2 linked regions of the Homo sapiens genome follow. The protein of the gene in region 2 interacts with the protein of the main gene of each other region in a pairwise test. Each region holds a gene or a part of one and is shown on either strand. Other genes may lie near its edges. The genes, in order: DLC1 and CDC14B.

The links.
Region 1: the proteins of CDC14B (region 2) and DLC1 interact in a two-hybrid assay, tested with the Homo sapiens proteins (one large-scale study listed by BioGRID and IntAct).

What each region holds. Positions count from the first base shown.
Region 1 is NC_000008.11:13,088,286-13,092,106, forward strand, and holds part of DLC1 (rho GTPase-activating protein 7), read right to left. Parts: intron 3,148-3,821; coding exon 3,033-3,147; intron 2,186-3,032; coding exon 1,967-2,185; intron 420-1,966; coding exon 202-419; intron 1-201. UniProt on the Homo sapiens protein: Functions as a GTPase-activating protein for the small GTPases RHOA, RHOB, RHOC and CDC42, terminating their downstream signaling.
Region 2 is NC_000009.12:96,518,690-96,522,510, forward strand, and holds part of CDC14B (dual specificity protein phosphatase CDC14B), read right to left. Parts: coding exon 3,817-3,821; intron 1-3,816.

The sequences.
Region 1 (3,821 bases), on a different chromosome or scaffold from region 2:
TACCCAGGCTGGTCTTGAACTGCTGGCCTCAAGTGATCCTCCCACCTTGGCCTCCCAGAGTGCTGGGATTACAGGTGTGAGCCACCATATGCCCGGCCTCTACTTTAAATAATTATACCATCTTGTAAGATCAGTGACATATAGGCTTGGTTCATATATGGAGTCATCCTTGTCACAAAAAAACAACTGGGAAGCGCTCACCTTAAAACAACGTAGTCTCGAGCAGGATGAGGTGCCATACTGTTTTGGACATACTGGTAAATTTCAGTTTGGCTGTCCAGAATTTCGATCACTTTTGAATCCAACAGGTCTACATCCCAGAGGTGCTGTTCTTTAAGTAGGCGCTTTAAGATTTCCTCTGGCACAGCAGGGACTTCAATGACTGACCTCCAAAGCCTCAGAGGGGGTCCTTCGCTCACCTGGAAAGAGGATGTATTTTTCAGTGCCAAGGCAATCCATACACACCTAGTTTTTGAAGTCGAATTGTTAGTTAGACTAACAATTTTAGTTACATATAATCAACGTTAATTGATTAAATGATATAAATAATACTATATAATCAGTATATAAAGAAATATTGGGGGCTAATAAATCTATGACTTAAATAGGCTGCTGTCCCCAAGCATATTTAAGAGCAAGCCAGAAAGTGAAAAAAAGCTGTTGTCAACTCGAGTCAAAATGATGACATTTGAGCCGGGTGCAGTGGCTCATTCCTGTAATCCCAGCACTTTGGGAAGCCGAGGCGGGTGGATCATCTGAGGTCAGGAGTTCAAGACCAGCCTGGCCAACATGGTGAAACCCTGTCTCTACTAAAAATATGGAAATTAGCCAGGCGTGGTGGCAGGCACCTGTAAGTCCAGCTACTCAGGAGGCTGAGGAAGGAGAATCACTTGAACCTAGGAGGCACTTTGCAGTGAGCTGAGATCACACCACTGCACTCCAGCCTGGGTGATGAGAATGAAACTCCATCTCAAAAGAAAAAAGAAAAAAATGATGACATTTGTTTTTTTTTTTCTGGGACCTATATCAGAGTGCATGCAATAAAGAAATATCAGTCACTGGCAGGGCATGGTGGCTCACGCCTATAATCCCAGCACTTTGGGAGGCCAAGGTGGGCAGTCACAAGGTCAGGAGTTCGAGACCAGCCTGGCCAATATGGTGAAACCCCGTCTCTACTAAAAATACAAAAATTAGCATGGCGTGGTGGTGGGCACCTGTAGCGCCAGCTACTCGGGAGGCTGAGGCAAGAGAATAGCTTGAAACCGGGAGGCAGAGGTTGCAGTGAGCCGAGATCATGCCACTGCACTCCAGCCTGGGTGACAGAGCAAGACTCCATCTCAAAAAATATAAATAAATAAAAACAAAAACATCAGACATTTGCACTCATTTCCAAAGCCGGCAAGGCCACCCAGCCTACTCCCACTGTTTGTTTATTTTCAAGATGGTAGAGGCGGCATCAACATATACCTCCGATGGACCTATCCTGCTGAGCCTTACAAGATGCCTCTGCCCTCAAGAGGTTTACCAGTCCTAACTGGAGTTAATTTCCCCCTAAGGGATCCCCGCTCATTAAAGGGCCAAGAGAACAGTAACTAAGAACAGAGAAGAGTGCAAAGGGATTCTGACCAAATTATGGAAAAATCGAAGCGTGTCATAGGATGTTCCGCATCTCAATGCCATTAGCAAAACATTCTAGGGAAGTCTAGTGTGATTCTGTAGAGCCAAAGGAGTTCATTAGAAATAGTTGAAATCCTCTCCCAAGTGTTACACAGGAAGAAAATTACTCTTGCTTTGCCCGGTTTCCACTCTCACCACGGGGATCTTACTCACCCCGGTGCCCAGCTCTACAAGGGAGGTTGTGGGCTACAGATCCCCAGACAGATTAGTTGGCAAAAGCGTGTTATCTCTGATGGACCCAAGCTTCGACTCCTGGACTCAACTAGCCGACAACAGGGTGAAGCCTTACCTTCTTATAGGACAGCTCAGCCTGCTCCGAAGTGGAGTAGCTGACCCAGCCTTTAAACTTCTCTTTGACTTCTTTAAACAGGCCATCCACACAGTCCTGGAGGAAGTGTTGGTAGTCAGCTGAGTCATCATTACCCAGGTGCCCGAGTGCTTCCAGAGTGAGGGGCTTCAGCTCTTGTTCGGTATAGGAATTACGACATCGGCTCATTTCCTCGGGAACCTGTGCGGAACATGACAGACAGAAAGGAGGTGAGTCCACCTGTACTCAATCTCAATGCCCATCAGTGGAAAAGACTGGGTAGGAACAATGGCCTGGTCCTTAAAGCAGTGCAGGCATCTTCCCGCCGGAGGTGGGCTATCATGCTGACCGCACGTGTTATCACGAGGATATGAACAGATCACCTCCATAAATGTATCTGAAATCTTATTTCCATGTAAGGTCTTTGGAAAGTTAGAGTAGGGGGAGTGAATTACATTGGTCAAAGCAGGTTTCTCAGATACGGAAGTGGATACAGCAGTTTAATTCCAGATAATTTGTTGCTTTTTCTTTCTTTCTTTCTTTTTTTTTTTTTTGAGAGAGAGTTTCATTCTGTTACCTAGTGGAGTGCAGTGGCAAAATATTGGTTCATTGCAACCTCCACATCCCTGGGCTCAGGTGATCCTCCCACCTCAGCCTCCCAAGTAGTTGAGACTACAGGTGTGCACCACCACACCCGGCTAATTTTTAAATTTTTTTTTGTAGAGATGAGGTCTCACCATGTTGCCCGGGTTGGTCTTGAACTCCGGAGCTCAAGTGATCCACCCACCTCAGCCTCCCAAAGTGTTAGAATTACAGGCGTGAGCCACTGCGCCCGGCTGCTTTTCCAAGTAAAGGGACAATTTCATTAAACATGATTAACTCTAGCTGATACATTATAATATATGTAAATAAGACATTCTCAGGCTATTTATACCGTCTCCAGCTGTGGAAAAGGTCTTCAGGTAAGACATGAACAAGGGTCAAGCCTAAGATTTTGTACCTATTCACATTATCCTTAATAAAGGAGCCAAACTTCTCAATTCCTTACCTGGAAAAGCTTCTTGCACTCGGCGATCATATGGGCCAGCCCTTGAGTGGCAGCTAGGTTTTCATTCAAATCTTTCTGATCTGGTTTGCCCAAACTTTGTTTTCTTTGCATTACCCTAGGTAGAAGAAATACAGGAGGGGAACAGTTCAAATATTTATATATTTTTCTTCAAGGTATTATTCAAGGAAACCCAAAGAAGAGAGAAAAAAAAATTTTCACTGGAATCTGTTTATTGTTAAGTGGATTAAGAGTGTTTTTACTTTGGTCACCAGAGTATCTCAGAGTTTTGTCAACAACACACAAAAAAACATTAAAGAGATATGCTTTTGATGAAATCCAGGTGATTCAAACCATTTAATTAAATAGGTTCCTACTGGGAACAGGGCAGCTTGTAGGGGCTGTGTTTGCATGGTGGGGGAGCAACTTCTGAGGAGTGTGGGAAAGGAGTCCCAGGGAGTTGGAGTAAAGGGTGTCATCATCTTTATCTGCCTGAATACACAGGCCCCCTCCCACAGGTGAGGGCTAAGTCCATTGTTTCCTTGACCTTTTGTCTTCATCTTATTTGATCTCTCTCCTCTACTCATCTCTAGCTCTGTATCCCATTGCAGTTGGAATGCCCCAGTCAACTTTAAGAACTATTTAAATGTGGCCGGGCGCAGTGGCTCACGCCTGTAATCCCAGCACTTTGGGAGGCTAAGCCGGGTGGATCATAAGGTCAGGAGCTCGAGACCAGCCTGGCCAACATGGTGAAACCCCGTCTCTACTAAAAATATAAAAATTAGCTGGGCG
Region 2 (3,821 bases):
TTAAATGGAATGAATAAATGGTCTGGGAGCCCTAGAGAACTCTCTACCGATCCCAGCCTTCACCTTCAGTTCCTTAAAGGCAGAATGGCCCGAATGTCCAAGTGTCAGCATTATAGATGGTTACTTTTTCCTCTAGTAAACCTCATGGCTTAAGAATTATTTTCCGGCCGGGTGCAGTGGCTCACACCTGTAATCCCAGCACTTTGGGAGGCCAAGGTGGGCAGATCACGAGGTCAGGAGATCGAGACCATCCTGGCTAACACAGTGAAACCCTGTCTCTACTAAAAATACAAAAATTTAGCCGGGCGTGGTGGTGGGCGCCTGTATTCCCAGCTACTTGGGAGGCTGAGGCAGGAGAATGGCATGATCCCAGGAGGCGGAGCTTGCAGTGAGCCGAGATCGCACCACTTTACTCCAGCCTGGGCGACAGGGCGATACTCTGTCTCAAAAATAAAAATAAAAAATAAAAATAAAAAAAGAATTATTTTCCATTGCTAACAGATATACTCATCTCCAAACCTACCAAAACCATCAGTATGCAGAACGACAGGCCTCATGGCTCAAGTTATGCAATCTACCAAATCCATTTTAGCACAGACAATATACTTGTCATCACGTCCTGAAGATCAGCTCAATGTCATGGTGCCACATGGTTTCCTGTCATCATTGTAGTCAGGATCAGACAGGCTGAGCAAATGGCCATTTTATAATCACTAAAAACTTAAACTCTCCCCCAAAACTGACCATTTATAAAAGAGAAACCGGCCAGGCGCCGGTGGTTCATGCCTGTAATCCTAGCACTTTGGGAGGCTGAGGTGGGTGTACCACTTGAGGTCAGGATTTCGAGACCAGCCTGGCCAACATGGTGAAACCTTGTCTCTACTAAAAATACAAAAAATTAGCTGGGTGTGGTGGTGCATAATCCCAGATACTCCGGAGGCTCAGGCAGCAGAATCACTTGAACCTGGGAGGCAGAGGTTGCAGTGAGCCGAGGGCACACCATTGCACTCCAGCCCGGCCAACAGAGCAAGACTCTGTCTTAAAAAAAAAAAAAAAAAAAAAAAGAGAAACCAATCATTGGAATAATATTTTATGTACTATAACCTTCTCCTAAGAATCACTAGTACTTGTGTATTTCTCACTAACTTTCCTTCTTGCATGTACTGTATTTTCATAAGGCTAAGTGCCAATGCTAAAGCAAAATAACTTGCTCACAGAAATCAATGAGTCAAACTTGGATGAAGAAATTGATTTTGTATTTTTCAACCCAAGCAACTGTTGAGAACAGTCCCTCAGGGACTTCTATTCCTAAAATAACAACATAGACACAAGAGGGAAAGAAAGAAAATCTTCAATTGATCTTTTCTAGGGCCAAAAAACTGCAAATAATAGCAGAGAGGGTTTGAAAAAGCAGAGACGGGGATAAGCAAAATGTTGTAAGGGAGGAGGAAGGAGATTTGCTGAGACTCATCAAAAATCCCCTCGGGTCTATACACATAACTCAGAGCTTAGAAAAACTAGCATTTCGCTTTCTTCTTTAAAAGTGTGGCCTAAAACTTTGTTATTTGTGTTATGTGGGGCTATTTATATATATTGTTTTTGGGATATTACCAAAAGGAATCCTGAGCTACCTCTTTGTTTTTTAACTTTTACCATTGTACTTGATTTTACTTATTTATTTAGACAGGGTCTCACTCTGTCACCCAGGCTGGATGCAGTGATCATGGCTCACTGCAGCCTCAGACTCCTGGGCTCAAGTAGTCCTGTTGCCTCAGCCTCCCGCATAGCCTGGTCTACAGGTGCGCACAGCCACGCCCAGCTAGATTTGAACTCACGTTAATGAGAGTAGCAGATTCAGAGGGTGACTAAAGGAAATTTCCTATTTAACAAAAACTTTTGACTAAGCAGGATTTGTATCCCCTGACTCTCAACTTGACTTTTGAACAGCAGGCAACAAAATATTAAAACATAAACTGATGATGCTGATTCTGAAAAACAAAACAAAAAATCCCAGACACAGCTAAAATCAACCCACAAAAGCATCAGTTTCCTAGGGCTTGCAATTCAATGTGTGGTCCCTGGACCAGCAGCCTCGGATAGAAATGTGAACTCTTGGGCCCCACCCCCACCCCACCAATCATAACCCATATTTCAACAAGCGCCCGGGTGCCTCCTGCACACTGAAGTCTGAGAAGCACTGCTCGAGGGTGCTGCCTGCCTCCTCCACCACATCCAGAATTAGTATCTGGATGATTACCTGGAGCCACCATAATACTTCCAAAGAAAAACCATTAAGGCCTTAGGTGAAGACTTTTAATAAGGAAATTAAAAACAAAATGGCATTTGGAGTTAAGTAAATTATACAAAGGCACTATTTTTGTTTGTTTGTTTGTTTTTTGAGATAGAGTCTCACTCTGTCACCCAGGCTGGAGTGCAATGGCACGATCTCGGCTCAATGCAATCTCTGCCTCCCGGGTTCAAGCGATCCTCCTGCCTCACCCTCCCGAGTAGCTGGGATCCTATAATGCCTACAGCTCCCACCATCATGCCCGGCTAGTTTTTGTATTTTTGTAGAGACGGGGTTTCACCATATTGGCCAGGCTGGTCTTGAACTCCTGACCTCAGGTGATCTGCCCACCTTGGCCTCCCAAAGTGCTGGGATTACAGGCATGAGCCACCACACCTGGCCAAAAGGCACCATTTTTAAAAAAGTATAGTTGACTAAAGTACCACTAAGTTGCAAAAGAAATGCTTAATAAATGCCTATAATCAAAATGGATGCCCTACATTCATTCACATAACACTGCATATTGTAAAACTCAATTCTTTGCCTTGGGTCTTTTAAGAAGAACCTCCCAGGGGAGCAACCCATAATGACACATGCCTTAGGTGTAATTCTACTTCAGAATTTTTATGACGAGACACTAGTGAGGAATTACTTTTAATTGAAAAGAAAACCTGTTCTCTGCCAATATAAATGGTATATTATATCATACTTCCTTACCATATTACAAGATGCTTACTGAATAAATGATCTATGTCCATCACACTCCCTCCCCGCAAAAAAGAAGGCTGGAAATCTGGTGTCCCACAATGAAAAAGGAAGTAACTAGAAGGAAGAAATCCAATGGCAACAAGTGGGAGCATTTACTAAAGAACAGCCTACAAAAAATACCATGGTCATGTACTTTGCTTCTGCATATTTTTCTAACAATCTTGGATGCTCCATCAGGTTGAATCCCAACTAACACACATTCACAAGAATGTACACATAGACATACATACACTCAGTACTACAACATTTCCTATTCTCAGGCTAAATCTTCCTCTATAATTAGAAAATCATTCCCCAAAGAAACAAACGAAAAACCCAAAATATAGTTTAGACCAGTTCATTGTTGCCCCAAAACAACATAATGTCATTAAGCCATCATGTCATGCTTATCAAAACAAATGATCTGCAACATGGCAAATGTAAAGAAATACACCACTTTAGTAACTATGGACAAGTCTGGCATCCTGGGCTTTACATCTGCTGTCGCGCTCCTGAGGATGCCCCATGCTGATTATTCATGGAGAAAAAGTATCCCTGATGTCGCCTTCCCACCCATAAAGGCTCATGAGGACCAAGGTAAACAAGGGACAGCTGAGAGCTTCCAAGGCCAGCACCCCTAGGTTTTAAATAACATAGGCAAGCATTTCAAAGTGGCATCATGGGCTTGCAACTATGGAGAAAAATGTACAGGAAAAACCCTCACCAAGGACCCCACACACATATGAAGAAACATCAACCACAACAAAGGAACCCAGACTCACGTGAG